4 separate regions of the Homo sapiens genome follow, and all the other regions are linked to region 1. Evidence: fine-mapped expression QTL. A gene starts in region 1. Each other region holds a variant in brackets. All regions are shown on one strand. Distances are from middle to middle.

Region 1 (5,153 bases):
TGCTTACCAGGTGAGGCCCAGCATCCTCACGGACCATCCCGGATCTCCGTAACGTAGCTCCACTGATCTGCTCCAGTGACTGCCTTCTGCTCCCAGAGTGGCACCTCCTTAACCACCCTCACCTTCCTACGCAGTGAATGAAGTGCAGACATGAATCCTGAGTCTGCCATTTAGTACTTCTCTAAAACTGACTTCTTGTATTTGTAAAATACCCGCCTCACAATCTCAGGATTGCTGTGAGCATCGTATATAATGAGTGCAAAGGGCCCGGCATAGTGCAAGGGACATGATAGGTGCATAACGAATAGGACCCACTGAGGCTGTTACTCATATTTCTGCTCTTGTGCCTTGTTCGTGTTATTCTCTACATATGAAATGTTTGTACTTCCTATTGCTCTGGCCTGACAGTCCTTAAGGGCTAAATTCCATCTTTACTAAATGTTTCCTTGGCTCTAACACACATTGATCTCTCCCCTCCCCAATTCTGAATGCACTTTCTTTTTTCTTTTTTTTTTTTTTGAGACAGAGTCTCGCTCTGTCGCCCAGCCTGGAGTGCAGTGGCGCGATCTCGGCTCACTGCAAGCTCCGCCTCCCGGGTTCATGCCATTCTCCTGCCTCAGCCTCCCGAGTAGCTGGGACTACAGGCGCCCACCACCACGCCCAGCTAATTTTTTGCATTTTTAGTAGAGACGGGGTTTCACCGTGTTAGCCAGGATGGTCTCGATCTCCTGACCTCGTGATCTGCCCGCCTCGGCCTCCCAAAGTGCTGGGATTACAGGCGTGAGCCACCGTGCCCGGCCCTCTGAATGCACTTTCTATATACACCAGGTGGCTGGTGTTATCTACTGTCTTATTCTTGAATGGCTTTGGGTAAGCGAGCCTCATAAGTTACTGGTGAGCTTGCTTGTATTGCTTCTGTGCTCCTCTCAAAGCTACTGGCACACTGTACCAAAGTGATTTGTTCATTGATTGATGGAGAAATGTAAACATTGGGACAAATCAGAGAGAAAAAAGGGCAAATTGGACATTATCTTGTTCGATTTCAGTTGGCAGTCAATGGTTTGTGTTCAAATTATCCTACAGAGGCTTGAACCAGGAGGGGAGGTTCAGAAAACAGATGGTGGGAAAGAGAACAGATCTCTGTATTATGGAGCTTTGACTTTAAAATTATTTCTCTTAAAGAAGAGATAGACCCAAAAGGAAATGATCTGAGATAAATTTCCAGGGACCAGTAAGACAGAAGTACCACTAAATATGAAGAGGCAGTGGACTGGGAATAATGAGAGAAGACCCAGGCAATCATGCCTGTAAGTTACGATAAAGAAAACAGGAAGCACATTTCGACAGAAAAACCATACTTTACATTAAAGAAGTGAGATTGTGTCTGTTGCAAGAGTGAGAGGGAAAGCCCGCAACGACCTCAGGGACCCAGTGAATTAGCTCACGGGAAGCCCAGGGCCTCTTTTGCTAGCTGCTAATGAAGGGAATTAGATAACCATGTTATTTTGAAAGAAAACAGATTATGTTTATTGAATGATCTAAAAGAAGCGAAAAGGGCTAGGTAAAGATGCCATGTTTTGGATTCTGATGTTGGGTCACACCAGGGCGCCCATTCTTCTGTATTCACAAAATGCCCAAATAGGGAGAGGTCTTGCCAGGCGCGTGAACTCGCCACTGTGGCTGAGCAACAAAGGTACATTGAAAGGAAGCGTGTGTGTTTGTGGCTTTGAGCCCCTTTTCCTATTCTGCTGAAGATTAGGAAATTATAGGTTATACTGCTTGAAATGAAGACAGAGTAAATGGTAGGAGGGTTGTAAATCACCTGCGAAGCACCGTCTTCGACCATGCCATATAGCAAGGCTACCCAAAACACTCCAGTCTCTAATTTGTTCAACTTAAAGAATAAGAGGGATATGTCAGTCAGGACCTGCTAACTGCTGTATCAGACAACCCCAGATCCCTAACGACTTACCTCACAGTCATCAGGGGCTAGACAAGTGACCTTCCACACGATAATTCAGAGATACTGCTCCTTTCCTGTAGTTCTCCAGTCCTCAGCACAGGGTCTCAAGATCATCTAGCATCGACCAGTCAGCAAATGTCGGAAGAGGAAAGATAGCTTCCTTAGTCCCTAAGAGACAGCATCTCGTTTTCACTACATTCCACTGGTGAGAACTACTCATATGGCCACACCTAGACACAGCGGTGACTGGAAAGTTAATTTGATTGTGTTTCCAGGAAAAGGAGATAGGCTTGGTGAGTCAGTCTCTCTAGAGGAAAATATGGAACTGGGTTGGATTAAAAAAAATCCAGGCTGGGCGCGGTGGCTCATGCCTGTAATCCCAGCACTTTGGGAGGCCAAGGCGGGTGGATCACCAGAGGTCAGGAGTTCGAGACCAGCGTGGCCAACATGGTAAAACTCCGTCTCGATTAAAAATTAAAAAAAAAAAATTAGCCGGGTGTGGTGGTGGGCGCCTGTAATCCCAGCTACTCAGGAGACTGAGGCAGGAGAATAGCTTGAACCCGGGAGGCAGAGGTTGTAGTGAGCTGAGACTGCACCACTGCACTCCAGCCTGGGTGACAGAGTGAGACTCCGTCTCAAAAAAAAAAAAAAAAAAAAAAAATTCAGGTAATGATTTATATGTTTCTATCAAGCAATATGCCTATAAACATGGAATGATTGAATTTTCAGTTTCAAATACATGTTTTGGGTTGTGAAGACTCAAAAAGCTTGTGGGTCTCTTTGTTTTTGTCAAAGTATATGAATAAACGAGGATTGCAGAAGTTTACTTGTGGAATGAATGCATTAGTAAATTAATGAAGCTTTCTCCTGTACTGAAAGAAGAGTATAAGGTCATGACTCATGGTCATGAGGTAGGAAATAATTCTGCTCACCAAGAAACAAGGACATTTTAAATATCTAAAAAAGCAGAAATGAGAAAGGAAGCATGAAAAATAATCATTTAGCCAACAGTTACAGCACCTACTGACAGACAGAAAGTACAGGGCATTGACATAGTTTAAATCCAGTGACTTCCGTTTTTCCTAATAGAATCAGAGTGATAATGCATTTTAAAGGTTATTTTTATTATTTCATGTCTCCAAACCATTTTCAGAGGGAAATTATCATGGCTGTCACAACAGTAGCTTAATACACAAGGTTGATGGTATTTTACAAAAGTGTCACAAGTGGATTTTAAAGTTAAAAAAAAAAAGGGGGGCTGAGTGCAGTGGCTCATGTCTGTAATCCCAGCACTTTGGGAGGCTGAGTCGGGCGGATCACCCGAGGTCACGAGTTCGAGACCAGCCTGGACAACATGGTGAAACCCCGTCTCTACTAAAAATACAAAAATTATCCAGGTGTGGTGGTGCGCGCCTGTAATCCCAGCTACTCTGGAGGCTGAGGCAGGGGAATCACTTGAACCCTGGAGGCAGAGGTTGCAGTGAACTGAGATTGCACCACTATACTCCAGCCTGGGTGACAGGGGGAGACTCCATCTCAAAAATAAAAAATAATAAATAAGGTTAAAAAAAAGATCAGTATGATATAGCTTATATGAATAGAAAAGATGATTCTCGAACAATAGCATGAGGCATATGAGTTGAAAATAAAGCCTAGAGGTCTTCACCTACAGCAGAGAAAATTTTCACTCTCCCCCACCCCACAGAAGACAGACAGACCTACCCCAAAATTAAAATGACATTAGCCCCATAAGCATGTTTCCCTCCTCAGGTAACAAAGAAGATACCTCAGTTCTAAATCCACACAGTTTTAAAGATGTCATATATTTAATGCTCTTTTTTTTTTCTTTTTTTTTTGAGATGGAGTCTTGCTCTGTCACCCAGGCTGGAGTGCAGTGGCACGATCTTGTCTCACTGCAACCTCTGCCTCCCGGGTTCAAGCAATTCTCTGCCTCAGCCTCCCGAGTAGCTGGGATTACAGGTGCCCGCCACCACATCCAGCTAATTTTTGAATTTTTAGTAGAGACGGGGTTTCACCATCTTGGCCAGTCTGGTCTTGAACTCCTGACCTCGTGATTCACCTGCCTTGGCCTCCCAAAGTGCTGGGATTACAAGCGTGAGCCACCATGCCCGGCCTAATGCTCATTCTAACTAGAAGGAAGTAAAGCCTCAGAACAGTAAAATGATTTGCCACATGTCACAGTTGCAATAAACAGTTCAAGTCCACTCCATAAAGAGATACTAGCAATCCTACGGTTTGTCGAAAGCCAGGCTTCTCGGATAACAAAATATTCTAGGTTCTTTGACAAAATGGGTGATGGGAAGTAAGGAGGAGGGCCTAGTTTCTGAAGCTGCAGGTCATGTAAGGAGCTTGCCCTCAGGCTGGCAAGGCCTAGGAATGGGGGGTGCAGGCGGCCTTCAAGTGCCTGGGGGCCAAGAGGAAGTGCTGCTGTCCCCTGAAATCTTTTTATGGGAGGAACTGACACTGTGGGTCTGTTCAAGTCCCCAAAATGGGGACAGGCTGGGGGCTGAGGACACAGACTCAAGGCCCCTCATTGGCAGTCATGGCCAGGCCAAGGAGCCCAGCTCAGGGCTGCTGGCTTATTCTCAAGCCCCCCAGGGATGTGAAGAGGGGTGCAGAGACTCACGTTTTGCACCCACGGAGTCCAGGACTGGGGTGTTAGAAGTGGGGTAGATTTAGTGGACACAGCAGATCAAGTGCATGTGAAGAGCGCCGCAGCAGCTCTGCATCTCCCAAAGGTCCCAGCTGGTCCTCTGAAGACCCGGGATCACAACTCCACATCGTCACCTCGGGGTCCCAAAGGTCCCAGCTGGTCCTCTGAAGACCCGGGATCACAACTCCACATCGTCACCTCGGGGTCCCAAAGGTCCCAGCTGGTCCTCTGAAGACCCGGGATCACAACTCCACATCGTCACCTCGGGGTCCCAAAGGTCCCAGCTGGTCCTCTGAAGACCCGGGATCACAACTCCACATCGTCACCTCGGGGTCCCAAAGGTCCCAGCTGATCCTCTGAAGACCCGGGATCACAACTCCACATCGTCACCTCGGGGTCCCAAAGGTCCCAGCTGGTCCTCTGAAGACCCGGGATCACAACTCCACATCGTCACCTCGGGGTCCCAAAGGTCCCAGCTGGTCCTCTGAAGACCCGGGATCACAACTCCACATCGTC
Region 2 (5,153 bases), 300 kb before region 1:
TAAATTTACTCCTTTCCATTTTCAATATGCATTATACTGACAGACATACTGTATTCTATGGTGAATTATATTGATTGAATTTCACATCTTAAACTAACACTGAGTTACCGTGAAAAACTCCATTGGATCATAATGTAGTATGTTTTTAATATATTTTAATACAATTTACAAAAATTCTGTTTTAAAATTACAACTATGTTCCATAAATAAATATGTAAAAAATAAAAAATGTTTGTATTATTCAAGTGAAGATTATAGAGATCTTTTTTTTAAGGGAATAAAACACTTTATTTTAAAAATTCAGGCCCGGTGCAGTGGCTCACGCCTGTAATCCCAGCAATTTGGGAGGCCGAGGCGGGCGGATCACGAGGTCAGGGGTTTGAGACCAGCCTGACCAACATGGTGAAACCCCGTCTCTACTAAAAATCTAAAAATTAGCTGGGCGTGGTGGCGGGTGCCTGTAATCCCAGCTACTCAGGAGGCTGAGGCAGGAGAATTGCTTGAACCCAGGAGGCGGAAGTTGCAGTGAGCTGAGATCGCGCCACTGCACTCCAGCCTGGGCGACAGAGCGAGACCCTGTCTCAAAAAATAACAAAATAAATAAAAAATAAAAATAAAATAAATAAAAATTCAAATATGCTTCTAATGAAAACTCCTGTCCATTTATTAAGCACCCACAGAGTGCCAGGCACCGTACAAAACATTAGAAAGACTTGTTCATGCTCTTTTAGAGCAAAATTCACTATTCCGTGGCACTTTGCATGATGCTGACATTTTAGATCCATTGTCATAAAATGACCAAGATCTTCAAGACTTGCTCGAGAAACAAGTTTCCAATCCATAGTAGAAACAGATCACGCAGGTTAATGCAGAAGGCAACTGGTGATATCTGTCAACTGTTTCACTTAACGTCCTCTCCCTCTGAAACCACCACCTCCTCTTCCACCTCTAAAACCACCGCTTCTGCCACTGCCTCTGCCACCTCCCCTTCTTCCTCCTCGGCCTCCCCTGCCACCACATCTTGGAGGTCCTTTCTCACCTGGAGGCCGAGGTAAAAACCTCTGCAGTGGCAGCAGCTCATATGGGTCTATATAAAACTTCCAGAGTTTTTTAAAGGATGAAGCCTTCTCGTTTTCTGACATTTTAACGGAAAAATAAAAATCTCTAAGTTGTCCAAATATTTCATCCGCTTTTCCAATTTGTTCTTTGTTTTCTAAGTAAACAGGAGCATTGAAATAAGACACCTTATTTTCATCTGCCGTACGTTTACAAACTATGTCATCTTCACAGGGATGCAGGAACTCTCCTAACAAGACTGCACGTTCTGGAGGTCCTTGGCCTTGGCCTTTGTCAAAGCCTCCGTGGCCACCCCCTCATCCAAATCCTCCCCTGTCGCCACCTCTGATATTTCCACCGCCTGCACCTCAGAAGCGGTTGCTGCTGCTGCCGCGGTTGAAACCGCCACCTCCACCACCTCGATCAAAGCCTCCACGACCTCCGCCCGGAAGAGACATTCTCTGTCTTCCCAGCGCCATGTGCACCTCTGGCCCTGGTCTTCAACACACACCCCTAGAGATCTTTTTGAACATATACTTGATCTCAACTAGCTTTAAATTCAGAAGTAGCAACTCCATAGCAATTCAACTTATTTCTACCTTATTAATCATACTGGTCACCTCGAAGAAGCTTCATTGCTATCATCCAGTTTAGACTGGAATATCATAAATCTCTAGACTGAGTAGCATAATACTCACTATTCAAATAAAATCAAATTTTATAATGTTATGACACCTCCAAATACAAAAAGCAAACCCATGGATGTTAGGTTAAGGTATAGAGACAAGTATTCCTACTTACTATCTTTTAGGGCAGACATATCCCAGCCAGGATGATTGCAAAATGAAATGGAAATCACATGGTGTAAGGGGACTTGGGACTCATACAGATTGAATTTTCATTCCAACTCTTACATATACAAGCTGCATGACTCTGGGTAGATGGCATATTCTCTTAGAGTTTCAGTTTCCTCGTCTGTACAACAGATGTTAACACTTACGTGTAAGGCCGGGCGCGGTGGCTCACGCCTGTAATCCCAGCACTTAGGGAGGCCGAGGCGGGGGGATCACGAGGTCAGGAGATCGAGACCATGGTGAAACCC[C/T]GTCTCTACTAAAACCACAAAAAAAAATTAGCTGGGCGTGGTGGTGGGCGCCTGCAGTCCCAGCTACTCAGGAGGCTGAGGCAGGAGAATGGCGTGAACCCGGGAGGCGGAGCTTGCAGTGAGCCGAGATCGCACCGCTGCACAACAGCCTGGGCGACAGAGCACGACTCCATCTCAAAAAAAAAAAAAAAAAAAAAAAAACCCTTATGTGTTATGGCTGACGTGGGGATAAAAGAGAACCAATACGGATGCATGGGCACGGCCTGGTCCACAGAGCAGCTGGCATCAACAAGTGGAAGCCCCCTTCCCATCTTGTCTTTACTTGCACTACAAAATTGTGAATATGTGGGTATAAAAAGTAGTCTTATAAGACACAGAATTGGAAGCTTTTGCAAAAAGAGGTTGGGAGAGTGTCACATCTTGTGGCATGAGGAGTTGTTGGCATACACTTGAGCTTTGTGCTGTGAGATATTCTTGGAACTTCAATAGCTTTAAGAGAACAGTTTAGATGTCATCTTATTAACCTACCATAACACTTTCTCTTGTTTTCAGAGATTTCTGGACAATACCTTTTACAGCTCTAATAATGTGGACTATTCTAATAGATACAAAGTGGTATTTCACCAGCAGATGCTACTGTAGTTTATATGATGATTTCAAACTGAGAATCCCTTTAAGGTTATGCAGTAGGTTTTATTGGAAATAGGATGAAAGCCCTTTAAGTCTAAAATCCTAAGAAATAGGTTTACAGCATATAATTCTTTGTTGCAATGTCTATCATACTATCTTACATCCACATACATATTGATTTCCTAATACATATGTATGAGAGTGAAAGTTATTGAGGGCAGAGACTGTGCCATATATTCCCTGCACTGCTGGTGCCTATCTCAGCACATGATATACAGTAGATGCTCAATAAATACTTTAACTTAAAAAAATGCATGGGCTGGACACAGTAGCTCAGGCCTGTAATCCAAGCACTTTGGGAGGCTGAGGCGGGTGGATCATGAGGTCAGGAGATCGAGACCATCCTGGCTAACATGGTGAAACCCCATCTGTATTAAAAATACAAAAAATTAGCCAGGCATGGTGGCAGGTGCCTGTAATCCCAGCTACTTGGGGGCTGAGGCAGGAGAATTGCTTGAACCCAGGAGGCGGAGGTTGCAGTGAACCGAGATCGCACCACTGCACTCCAGCCTAGGTGACAGAACGAGACTCCATCTCAAAAAGAAAAAAAATGCACTAAGAATAAATCAGTAGACATAAAAATACGTATGAATACAATCTACAGACGTGGTCAGGAGCTCAAAATCCAGCCTTCAACATTTAAAACCATATCCATCTTTCAAGACCCTTAGTGAAATGCAACTTTTTCCCTGAAACTCCTCTGATCCTTCCACAACCCCAGGATATAATCTTCCCCACGTTAGAGTTCCCACAGCACTTTGTACCTCTTCTCTTAAAATACTCTCCACTTTCTGCCTTACGTTATAATCTGTCCAGTGACTTAGATATACATAAACTCCTGCCTGTTGCTTGTGTTGTCCTTAGGTGTCCCCCAGTGCTGTGGGTCTTCACCAAATGCTTGCTGAATTCTCTCACCCCTTATTCAACAGCTAAGCTCTGAAATCTTAAAAGTAAACAAAAAGTTGATTATTTATTTATTTATTTAGAGACAAAGTCTCGCTCTGTCACCCAGGCTGGAGTGCAGTGACGCAATCTTGGCTTACCGCAACCTTCCTCTCCCGGGTTCAAGCGATTCTCCTGCCTCAGCCTCCTGAGTAGCTGCGATTACAGGTGCATGCCACCACGCCTGGCTAATTTTCTGTGTTTTTAGTAGAGACAGGGTTTCACCATGTTGGCCAGGATGGTGTCAAACTCCTGAGCTCAGGCGGTCCGCCCACCTCGGCCTCCTAAAATGCTGGGATCACAGGCGTCAGCCACGGCGCCTGGCTACAAAAAGTTTTAAAGTAGCTTCAAAACCCATTTGCAAATAGGTGTATGCAGAACAAGATGAAAACAAGAAAACATTGAGCTTCATATAATAGAAGGGTTCTGCCTGGATTTGCATGTGGCCCCATCATTTGTTTGCTGTTGGGCCGTGGTCAGGTTACTTAGCTGCTCTCTGCCTCCACATAGGCTTGCTGCCTGTGCATCCCTCATCTACAAAATGGGAATAATAAGAATATCTAACAATGAGAAGTGGAGAAAACGTATGTAAAGGCCTTTGAAGAGAGCTATTGAGTCAAAGCTCAATAATTGTACTCAATAATTGTCAACTACCATTCAATAATAATAATCATAATCATAAAAATATATGACTCAAAGAAAGAGTCCTACTTCATATCCAGCTTCTCAAAAGAATATCAGATATTGGACCTGTGAAAGGAATGACAATGAGATGTAGTTTCACATTGCTAAGTTGTTTTTTTCTTTTAGCCATTCAATTTCTGTAGTCCCCGCTCTAAGCCCACGGTCAACTTTTTTTTTTCCTTCTAAAATTTCTTCCCTTCTGGTAAGATTATCTTTGCCTTAAAAAGGGCCCTTTTCATCCCCCTACCCCCTTACCCTTCCCAGAAGTTGGTTAATGGGCACAAAAATACGGTTAGATAACAGAAGAAGTTCTAGTGTTCAACAGCACAGTAGGGTGACGATCGTTAACAATAACTTATTATATATTTCAAAATGGCTAGAAGATTTGGAATGTTCCCAACACAAATAAATGATAAATATTTGAGGTAATTGATATGCAAATTATCCTGATTTGATCGCTACACATTTTATGCATGTATCAAAATATCACGTGTACCCTACAAATATGTACAATTGTCATGTATCAATAAAAACAAAAAAGGGCCTGTTTCTCTTTGCCTTCCTCCCTGAATTCCCTCCTGTCCCAGATATGTGCTGTTCCTGGCACTCTCCGGCCCCCCGTTCAGCCAGCACTGAGCCAGCAGGAAGGATCTCACAGGTTATATCCTGAGGTTCAACC
Region 3 (5,153 bases), 22 kb before region 1:
GGTTATAGGTTTTTAGGAGGAAGGCCACATGTGACATTTTTATAATATAATTTTCTACAGGAAGAAAATTCGGACTTTTCTCTACCATGATTGATGGGCTTTTCTTACATTGTTAGTTTTGATTCAAAATCAAAACTATGTGGATGGGTACCAAATTCATTGCTTTTCATTTTAAATGAATGCTGATTGGAAAAATTTTCAGTGGTAAACCTACCGGCTATGTCCATTTCACTCCGTGTTTCTCTTCCCCTGCCCATCTCCTAAGATGCCTTAGGAGAGGGGAAATATGATCTCTGGCCTTGAACCTCCTGCCAGGATGCTAGATAAGTTGACAGAGAGGGTGGAGAAATATACCTGAAGGCATTCCTGTGCGGAGAAAGCTAGAGCTATACATGCAAGTCCCTGTGAATTCCGTAACTACATCTCCCCAGACCCAAAGAAATGTATGTTCAGCTCCAGCTCTTGTTAGCTGGGTTCCAAAGATGACCTTGGTCACTTCAGCACCATAATGGGATGAGGTGGTGACAGAAGAGACTTTGCATAGAGTGCACCAACTGTGCTATGTGCTGTATCAACTGATTGCAGCTACGTGGTCTTACTTTTGCAAATTTTGTGGAAACATTTAACCATGTGACTAGGTTGCCAGAGCCCCTCCCGAGGTCTCACAAGGGGCTTCTATAAATGAGAAGCCCTAAAAATCAAGCTATGTGAGCCTCGCAATGAATCTACTCCCGTTGGCAATGCTTTTTGCACCGTTATGATGCCACTGCTTGGACTTGCTAGTTCAACTCTCCTGGGCTTCAGCGGTAGTGAAGAAGAAGCATTTCCACCAGGCCGACACTGTTCTAACACTACTGATAATTATCCTGTGGTCTTCAGTGGCCCTAATGAAGTCATAGTCCCTTTCTCCACACCCCTTTTAGTTTTAACATGCACTTGATCCACTGGCTTCATCCACTCCATGTGGGAGAACAATCCACAGCTGCTTAGGCCGCAGCTGCCCAGGGTTTCCCCTCTCTTTTCTGGGTTGGAGGACTCCAGCTCTCCCAGACTCACTGCTCAGGCCTTCTCCTGGCATTGCAGTTCTGCCCCAACACAGAGCTGACAAACCAGGGCGTCTAGACCCCACCCTGCGTCCCCACAGCACTCTATTTTTTTGTTCTTGGAAGTGATATGAAGATCTTATGTAGTCAATGTCAAAAAGAAATGATAATTACTTCATTTTTCCCACTCAACTGGCCACTTATTCCCAACTAGTAAAATTCAACCTCTGCAAGGGTTTCTAAGGCACCCTTCATAACCTGACCCTGCTTTCCCCGCCAACAAGTTCATATCATTTTCCTCTCCAGCTATCTGTAGTCAAGAGTAAAAAGTCTGGAGTCACACAGGTTGGAACCAATTCCACTACTCACTAGTTCAGACCCAAGGCAAGTAACTGTCAAATCCCTGTCTTTCTTATCTGCTGAGTGAATATAATACTGTATTGCATCAAATCTAAATCATCAATTGTAAGATGCACTATTAATTTATGTAGCCCTGATAAAGAAAAGAATTTCTGCTGATTTTAATTGCAAAACATTGTCCTTTGGAAGATGCACCCTCTATCAATTCGCTTTTGCTGTATGACAAATCACACCAAAACTTAATGGCTTAACACCACAATCATTCATTAGCTCATCATTCTGTGGGTCGGCACTTGGGCTAGGTTCAGCTGGGTGGTTCCCCTGCTGGTCTCTCTTAGGCTCAGTCCTGCAGCCACCAATAGCTGGTGGATCAGCTGGGGCCAGATGCTCTGGGATAGCCTCATTTACATGTCTGATGGTTGGCTGACAATTTGCTGAGGCTCCTCAGTTCTTCACATGGCCACCCTAGCAAACTAGCTCAAGCGTGTTCAAATAGTAGTGTCACGGCTACAAGCACAGCAAAGGGGACAAGCCTCAGGGCATAAATGCTTTTCAAACCCCTTGCATCATGTTTGCGTGCTTGAATCCAGGCAGTCTGGTTCCAGACCCTCGACTCTTAACCTGCAGAGAGTTCCGTCTTACTGGAGAGGGGAATGAGAGCAGGGATGGGTCCCGTTGGCTAAAGCAAGCCACATGACCAAGTCAAGACTCAGTATGGGAAAGAGCTACTGAAGCACATGGGTACGAGGAGGAGAATTTTGCTGGTTATTTTGCAATCTACCCACATCCTGACTGTGTACATAAAAAAGTCTGAAGAAATTTGTACTAAGAGTGCACAAGTACTAAGAGTAGTAGTGCTTGCCTCAAAGAGTTGAGTAGTAGGGCTCTGTGAGATAATGTCAGTAATATCACTTAGTACAGTGCGTGGCCCCTGGTCAATGTTCTGTACGTACTATTACTATCACATTTGTGTCCGTGCTTCTTTCTACCAGAAAGCTGGTAAATTCATGTTTATCCTCCCAATCCTAACTCAGACATCACTTTCCCTAGGACACACACACAATTTGTTGCTCCCAGAGCTGTGCCACCCTGTACTTTACACACATTGCCTTTGTTGCAGCAGGTTGTCATTCTTGTGCTTCTGTGGGCCTGGCTTTGGGCTTTTTGGTAGCAGATATTCTGTGTCTAGACACCTTCCATCCCCAATACAGTGCCTGGCACTTGATATGTGTTTATTTAATTGAAGTGACATGTTACTTCCAATAGAACTTCTTCTCATTCCCCTGGGTATCATCTTCCTTTCCTCTGGGGATGCTCCCACAGCACCCTACCATCTTTCTAGTGTAGGACTTGTGACACTGAGCTGTGATGACTTGTTTGCGTAACATGCACACATAAAGAATTTTCCTTATTTCTTTATATTACACAGAGCTCCCCAGTACCATGACTAGCGGTAGCAGCAAATACTCTATAAATACCTGTTA[CATTTATTTATTT/C]ATTTATTTATTTATTTATTTATTTTTGAGACCGAGTCTCACTCTGTCACCCAGGCTGGAGTGAAGTGGTGCAATCTCAGCTCACTGCAACCTCCACCTCCCGGTTCAAGTGATTCTCGTGCCTCAGCCTCCCGAGTAGTTAGGATTACAGGCACCTGCCACCAGGACCAGCTAATTTTTGTATTTTTAATGGAGACAGTGTTTCACCACGTTGACTGGGCTGGTCTCAAACTCCTGACCTCAGGTGGTCTGCTCACCTTGGCCTCCCAAAGTGCTGGGATTATAGGCATGAGCCACTGCGCCTGGCCAACACCTGTTAAATTTAGAAAACAGAGTTTTCAATCTCTGTCTTACACCCAAGAAGGCCTGTGGCCCAGAGATCCGGAGTAAAATTAGATTCAGTATTTAATCCATCAATAGCTCGTTCTTACTGCATCCCTAGGGTATGAACTCTGCTGACTTTTCTCTCCTCTTTAGATCACAACCCAGTGACATCACCACTACACAGAGAATCATTGCAGGCCCTATCCATGTCTCCGTGGTCTCTCTGATCCCCCACCCCCACCCCAACACACACACCACGCGCGCTCACAAACGTCAGTATTTTATGTGAGTAGAGTGTGTCTATAAATACCATGGACAGTGGATGGGACTTGGATCAGGTCTTTTGTCACCCTATGATACCCTATGGGGGCAGGACCCCAGGACCCCATAGAGTTGGTATATTGGCTCGGAGGGATGTTGAAACTGTGAGTGGAACAACATACCACCATCCTCCACTTCCATTTGCACCCTCTACTTCTCTCCTGCAGCAGGCTGACGCCGGCCCAGAGCCTGCATACAGCCACAAGCTCACTTCTCAGCCTTTTGGAGGCCATGCACCACCTTGGGAATGCAATGGAAGATTCAGACCCTCCTCATAAACGTTTCCCACATGCTTTCTATGGGTTCCCTGGGGTCCCCAGTTAAGAGCCCTGGTGGAATAGAAAGGGCACTGGATTTGTACTTGCAGAGATCTAAGTTCAAGGTCTGATTCTACCTCTCACTAATTCTGTGGCTGATCTCTCTGAGCCTCAATTTCTACATCTGAAAATGAGGTATAGCCAGCACTGCAGGTTGTAAGGGGCCTGCTACGTGATAGGTCCTCAGTTTTGCCTTCCCCGTCTAAGCCTCCTAGGTACCTGGTTACCATTTGCAAGAGCCTGGAGCTAACAGGTGGAAGTTTCATTCCAAGTTCAGGTCTTCATGCAATCACGTGAAACCATTTACTGAGCATTTATTATGTGCTAGCCACAGTGGTAGGTGCTGGAGTATGCAAGTGTGTGTTTATACCTGGCTGTGAAAGGTATACAGAGGTGAACATAATATGAGACCTCAGGGAGCTGGTAGTATGATGACCTAGTGCCCATCTATCCACAGAATGCAATTTGCCTAAAACGTTTAGCACAAAATGTTTTACCTGATTAACCCACTACAAAGACATCTTATTATTGATACCTCCAGCGTTTCGGCTATGGGATCAAAGTCTGGCCTATGTTTGACACCCGTATATCTCTGTGAAAATACATTGTCTTCCTCGAGTCTATTAAATTCAATGCCAAGAGCCTCCATTAGGGATATTCTTGTGTAGTCAAAATTGAGTGAGATGTCTTTGGCATGAATATATTGAATGTACAGCTTTTGAAATTAGTTCACTATGGTAAATATCAATGTTTTCACTGACTGAATAAAATTGATTATAATATTGCACTCTACACAGCTAAAGATTATTAACTTTTGGGGAAATGATTTTTTATCATGGCTAAAAATCCATTTTTAAGATGCTTGTCAGGCTGTTCTTTTCAGCATAGTTCTCAATTGAAAATGTAGACAGCTCATGGCATTGTGGGCATTTGTGCTCACTGCTGAACACATTTGAATACCTCTGCTCTCACAGTCTTTTCTTCAAGTCAAACAGTCTACCAGAATGCACTAAGCTCCCATTTTGCCAAGAAGCTGGCTGTTTGAGAATAATCTGGAGAGATTCCTAAAGACTTTGATAAGTGTAATTTTTTGAAAGCTCTGTCTCTCTGGTGTCATTCCTACTGAGGCTGCTCATGTCATTCAGGTTCCATAATTTGGATGTTAAATGAAAAAAAAATGAAGCACAGTGGTCTAGTTTACAATTTAGGTTAATTGGCCTACTTCAATGTATCTCATTTTCAAGTATTTTCACCTTTACTATGAACTCCTACTTACTGAGCACCTACTATTT
Region 4 (5,153 bases), 64 kb before region 1:
GAGGTAAACACAGGCTTCGGGGAACCACGGCTAAGTCAGAAAGATGCCTGAAGAGAGAAAACAGGTTTACAGACCTACAAGTGCTGGTCCTGCCGGATAAGGCCAAAGAGAGCAAGAGAAGAGCCACAAACTGCCACCACTACACACATTGACAGTTCTCAAGCCACTGCCATCCACAGCACAGAGGACTGATCCTGTTCAGCTCTGGTGGAAATGAAACCCCATTTGGTTATACTTCTAAAATGTTACCTATATTCTTTTTGAGACTATTTCCACTATTTTATCTCCTCACCAAGCGCAATATCATCTGTTAGAAACTTCACTTTCTTGCATAGCATCTCTAACAGTTAAAATCATCAGCTACAAAACATATGCATGTGCAGACACAGGTCTTTATTAGTTTTAGGTGCAACATTTATAGGTGTGCAGATTTGACATCGCTGTGCACCTTTCTCTAAGTCGTCTTCATCTGTTAGCTTCCTGAGTATATTTGCTATGTGCAAGAACTCCTAATGATGGATAAGGCGGCAGGGCCTAGCCTCCCACAGTAGCAGCAGTAGTCTTTACAGGTAGCAGGTCTCCAATGTGAGCTGCTGAGTCCTCTGGGGCCAAAGGACACTGTAAGGCATCCAGACATCCACAGAAAGCCAAAAAGCAGTCTTTAGAGACTGATAAATAAAAGCTCAGTGACTATGACGTTAGAGCCTACCTTTTTTTTTTTTTTTAATTTCAGAGAGGGGCCTTCACTTTTACAACAGTCTGGAAACCCTTGGAGAAATTAGACTGTGATATGATAACCTCTGGTACCAAGAGGAGAGAGCTGTCCAAAAGTGGAAGAGATCGTTTCTGGCTTAAGGTGTGATGAAACAAAACAGGAGACACCAAAAAGAAGTGTGGAAAAGCTAGGTCTCAGAGTAGGGCGGCAGGCTGAGGAGGGCCGCGCTGAGGAGGAAGTGGATGGGTGCCAGGGGATGAACTCACAGGGAGACCCTTTAGAAGGGGATGACTGCCTGATCTGTTTCCATGGACTCTTCTATTTTTATTAGGATTATCCATTTCTCTTCCTACAAGCTCTTTTGCTTTTTGTCCACCCTTAAGTTATAATGTATATACTGTTTAAAAACATTTAAGTGATACAGAAGTATATCAAGGAAAAATGATGACTATTAGTAGTTTGGTAAATTCCTCCCAGTCTTTTTTTTATGCTTATACATTTATAGACATTCTGTCAATATCTACTGTGTGCTACATGTGTGTATTTCACTCTTGATCCCAAACTGCTAATAGTTTTCTGGAGTAAATATGACCTAACCATATCTTTTAATCATCACAATGTCTTCTCTCTCGGCAGAAACTTTCTAACACCTATGGCTGTGATTCCAAACATGCTTACTAACTACAGCACACTACTTTATGAAGCAAAAACGTTATTCTCTGTGTGCATAAGAATGGGAGAATATCTTTGCTTAGTGTCACGCATTATTGTTACTTAATCGCTGAGTCTGTTTTCTTTTCTGTAAAATGGAGACATCATGAGTCCACTTCCAGGGTTATTTTTTGTTAAAGAGGAACTTTCCTGTAAAATATGATTGTGTAGAATATTACTTGTGCACCCGATAACATGCTCTAACTACAGTACAAGTCCTCCATCACCTCAGTCTTGACTCCAACAAATAGCCTGAAATTCAGAAGCAATTTTGTGGCTTTGTAGTGAATATCAGAAGCCTTTTCAACCCATGAAGCCACCAAACACACCGAAGGCACCAAGGCTAAGGTAGGAAGAGAAAGGGGGAAAGGACAAAATGAGAGAAAACAGGAAGAATGAGTGGGTGTGAAAAGAGATAAGAAAAGTACCAAGTATGATGGTGAAGTGTGGTTGTCTCAGCATGGCCTAGACATGCAGGTGGCCTGGCCGCCCACAGGGAGGTCCTCACGATGCTCTGCTTACAAAGGTGCCTTCTATACCTCTTGACACAACAGAAATGCATTCATGGTCTTTTTCAGTGCTCTCTCTTCAAAAGCAACACCACTTTCTGCACTCTGCAGAGGAGTTCCCCTAGCTGTGAATGGGCAGATGGGGATAAGGTGAACAAGACACAAGCTTGTTCTGAAGGAGCCCACGTCTTGTCTCTAAGTGACCACAGGGACTCCAGGGAACCCTGGCTGAGCAGAAGAGTGCAGGGAGAGTCAGGATGAACAGACAGAAGCAAGCCTGAAATCTCAGGTGCACAGGCTCATTCTAGAGCCAAGCTTCTCAAAGTGTGCTCTGCGGAACACCTGGCACTGGTTAGGAAAGCAAATCACACCAGACCTGCTGAATCCGAAACTCTGGGGATGCGATCCAGCAATCTGTGCTTTAAGAAGCCCTCCAGGGGATGCTAAAGTTTGAGAAGCACCTTCCTAGGGACAGCAGGTTTCCAGCAGGGAAGTTTTCAGCAGGGA[A/G]GTGGTGAGGATGGGCTAATGGGTTAGAAAGAAATCTACAAGAAGCGTAAGCAGTGTGTGGAACAGGAGGGAGGGAAGAGACTGGGGAGAAACCAACTCCTACAGACCTGGATAGGGCAGTGGGAGTTGGGAGCCGGGAAGGACCAAGGCACTGGGCGTGCTGCAGCACTCAGGAACAGGATTTAACAGGTAATGGGGTGTAAGCAGAAAGAAGGAGGGCTGAGAAGAAAAACTGTCCCCTTTAATCAAATAGAAGACTGGGTACTGGGGGTAGGCTTCAGAAAAGAGATGAAGTTTAGCTTTGGACATACAGAGACCATATCCCTTCAAGACAGGTCAACCACCTTGGTCAATGTCCCAAATTTTATTTTGAGAACCACTGCTCTGGAGGACCATTTTATAACAAACTTTTAGCTAAATAATTTTTTAGTTAGGTTTAAGTTTTTGGTGGTGTATAATCTTCTGGAATCCGAGAAACATGGAGGCAAACAAGCTAAATCAAAGTTAAAGAAGTGAATGATATCCCCAATAAAGCAACATCTTGACATGTAACCTGGGGCAAGATATTTATTATTACCCTAATTAGCAATTAGAATAATGAGAAAAGCTTGAAAATGAAGCAGTAAATGAGACATCTGTCAAAAGGAGACACTAATTGAAGGCTCGATGATACGGGATAAAAGGTCACACTGTCACTCAGTTGTCAGACATAACTGTAATTTCAAGAAAGGGGGTTGAATAAGAAGGGGAAGGGCACAAAACATTAGGATCTGTGCTTCAAAATCTGTGGCTCTATGAAAAGACCACACATTCTAATAATGAATTATTTTTTTTTCCCGAAACAGGGGCAGGCTCTGTCGCCCAGGCTAGAGTTCAGTGGCATTATCAGAGCTCACTGCCGTCTCAACCGTCTGACTGAGCTCAAGCAATCCTCGCACTTAGCCTCCTGAGTAGCTGAAACCACAGACACGTGCCACCTTGCTTGGCTAATCTGTTTATTATTTGTAGAGGCAAGGTCTCACTATGTTGCCCAGGCTGGTCTCAAACTCCTGGGCTCAAGGGATCCTTCCGCCTAGGCCTCCCAAAGTATTGGGATGACAGGTGTGAGCCACTGCGCCTGGCCCAGTGTTGCTATTTTTTGAACAGAAATGCTATATTTAAAAAAGGGTGTTAGCAACCTTAGTTATATCTACACAAGCAAGGGGTTGCAAGCTGAGTGCTGGGAAGCAAAGCTGTAACAATTGGAGTCTGAAATGCTTGTAGGTTTTACAAGACAGAATCACTTCAAAAGCTGGGGACTTAAATACTATATTAGGTAAGTCCACGTAGCTATTTCTAGGGACGCCTATTTAAATGAAAAATAGCTTAAATTTGGCCCTTACGGCCTTCTGACATAACCTACTGATCAGCAGGCAGTGTGTGTGGGTCGCTTGGGCTCAAGAAACAGGGCAAGCAAAGCAGACAACCCCAGCTGAATGTGTAGGAAATCAGTCATGAGCCAGTGAGTCAGCAGGCTTTAGGAGTCTTTTATTCCTCCTGCTATAGACCTCTTTAATGTGGTTACATAGTGTTCCCAGTTAAAAAAAAAAAAAAAAAAGATAGTGAGTCAAACCCACTACAGTGAAATCGGTGGTCATGAGTATATTCCGCAACATCTCTACAAGCTCAGGTTCCTCCTGAGGTCAGTCTCCCCACAAGGGCTGAATTAGGAAACAAGTTCAAGTCCCCCTTGGGGGCAGGAAGGGCAGGAAAACCGTGAACATCTGCATATCAAAGGTTTCCGAGGCCAGAACTCTCACCAATATTTGACTAACAGGAACGCGATGGCCAGTTATTTTGTGCCACTCTCCTATTTAAGTGCAAAAGCAAATGATGCCGTTGAGGATTTCTTAGGGGTAGAGAAGCCCAAGCTTTACCACTCATAGACTCATTCATCTCCATCTCCAAATGGGCATCTGCCAGCCATAGCAGTTAAATGCCCCTTGTGTTGCTACTGTTTATGCAGGAGAGGGATAGGGAGGTGGACGCAGGGCGAAAGTGAGAAGGGAGAGTGAGAGAGAGGAGGGCAAGGAGTAGAAGGGGGAGAGGCAGAGCCAAGTAACTTCTAAAGAGACTGCCAAAGACGTGGCTGGGTTCTAATGCGGGATCCATCTCTAGGGTGCAAAGGAGCATGTAGAACCACAGTCCGGGGGTAAAAATGATTCCTTTTTGTTCCTTCTAATACCTAACATGTGGTCTATACAGCTGTTCCCCTTCAGGATACCCAAATCCAGATGCTCAAGTCCCTGATATAAAATGGCATAGTATTTGCATATAACCTATGCACATCTTTCTGTATACTCTAAATGGTCTCTATATTACTCACAATACCTAATATGATGTAAATAAGTAGCTGTTATACCGTATTGTTCAGGGAATAATGACAAGGAAAAAATGTCTGGCAATGTTCAATAGACAATACCATCCATTTATTTCCATGGAATATTTTTAATCCACGGATACAGAGCGCCAACCGCGTCCTTCTCAGCATTTACATTTTACACGCATCTTAGCCTGCTCAGAACTCCATCATGTGCTTCTTTTTGTAAAGACACAAAACTACTTTTCCATCCAGTGACCTTTCAGAGAGGAACTCTGGCCATCAATTCTCATATCTAGCAGACTACATCTTTGATATATTACACTAGGTCTTTTAAAGGCCAGCCCCTGGG

What was found.
Region 2: its variant is fine-mapped to the expression of MIR3945HG in whole blood (INTERVAL, PIP 0.99).
Region 3: its variant is fine-mapped to the expression of MIR3945HG in whole blood (INTERVAL, PIP above 0.99).
Region 4: its variant is fine-mapped to the expression of MIR3945HG in whole blood (INTERVAL, PIP above 0.99).

What each region holds. Positions count from the first base shown.
Region 1 is chr4:184,853,497-184,858,649 of GRCh38, forward strand. It overlaps MIR3945HG (MIR3945 host gene), which reads right to left and starts at 2,156. Exons shown (of 3, transcript NR_132989.1): 1 at 1,973-2,156.
Region 2 is chr4:184,558,270-184,563,422 of GRCh38, forward strand. It overlaps the pseudogene LOC100129245. Among named protein-coding and RNA genes, the nearest start is that of LINC02427, 23 kb to the left of the region's middle. The variant C/T (reference allele first, on the strand shown) is at 2,159.
Region 3 is chr4:184,831,501-184,836,653 of GRCh38, forward strand. All of the region lies in intron 2 of LOC105377587 (a long non-coding RNA gene), which reads left to right. Among named protein-coding and RNA genes, the nearest start is that of ACSL1, 8.1 kb to the left of the region's middle. The variant CATTTATTTATTT/C (reference allele first, on the strand shown) is at 2,888.
Region 4 is chr4:184,789,174-184,794,326 of GRCh38, forward strand. The region is part of intron 2 of ACSL1 (acyl-CoA synthetase long chain family member 1); the gene reads right to left. Among named protein-coding and RNA genes, the nearest start is that of ACSL1, 34 kb to the right of the region's middle. The variant A/G (reference allele first, on the strand shown) is at 2,443.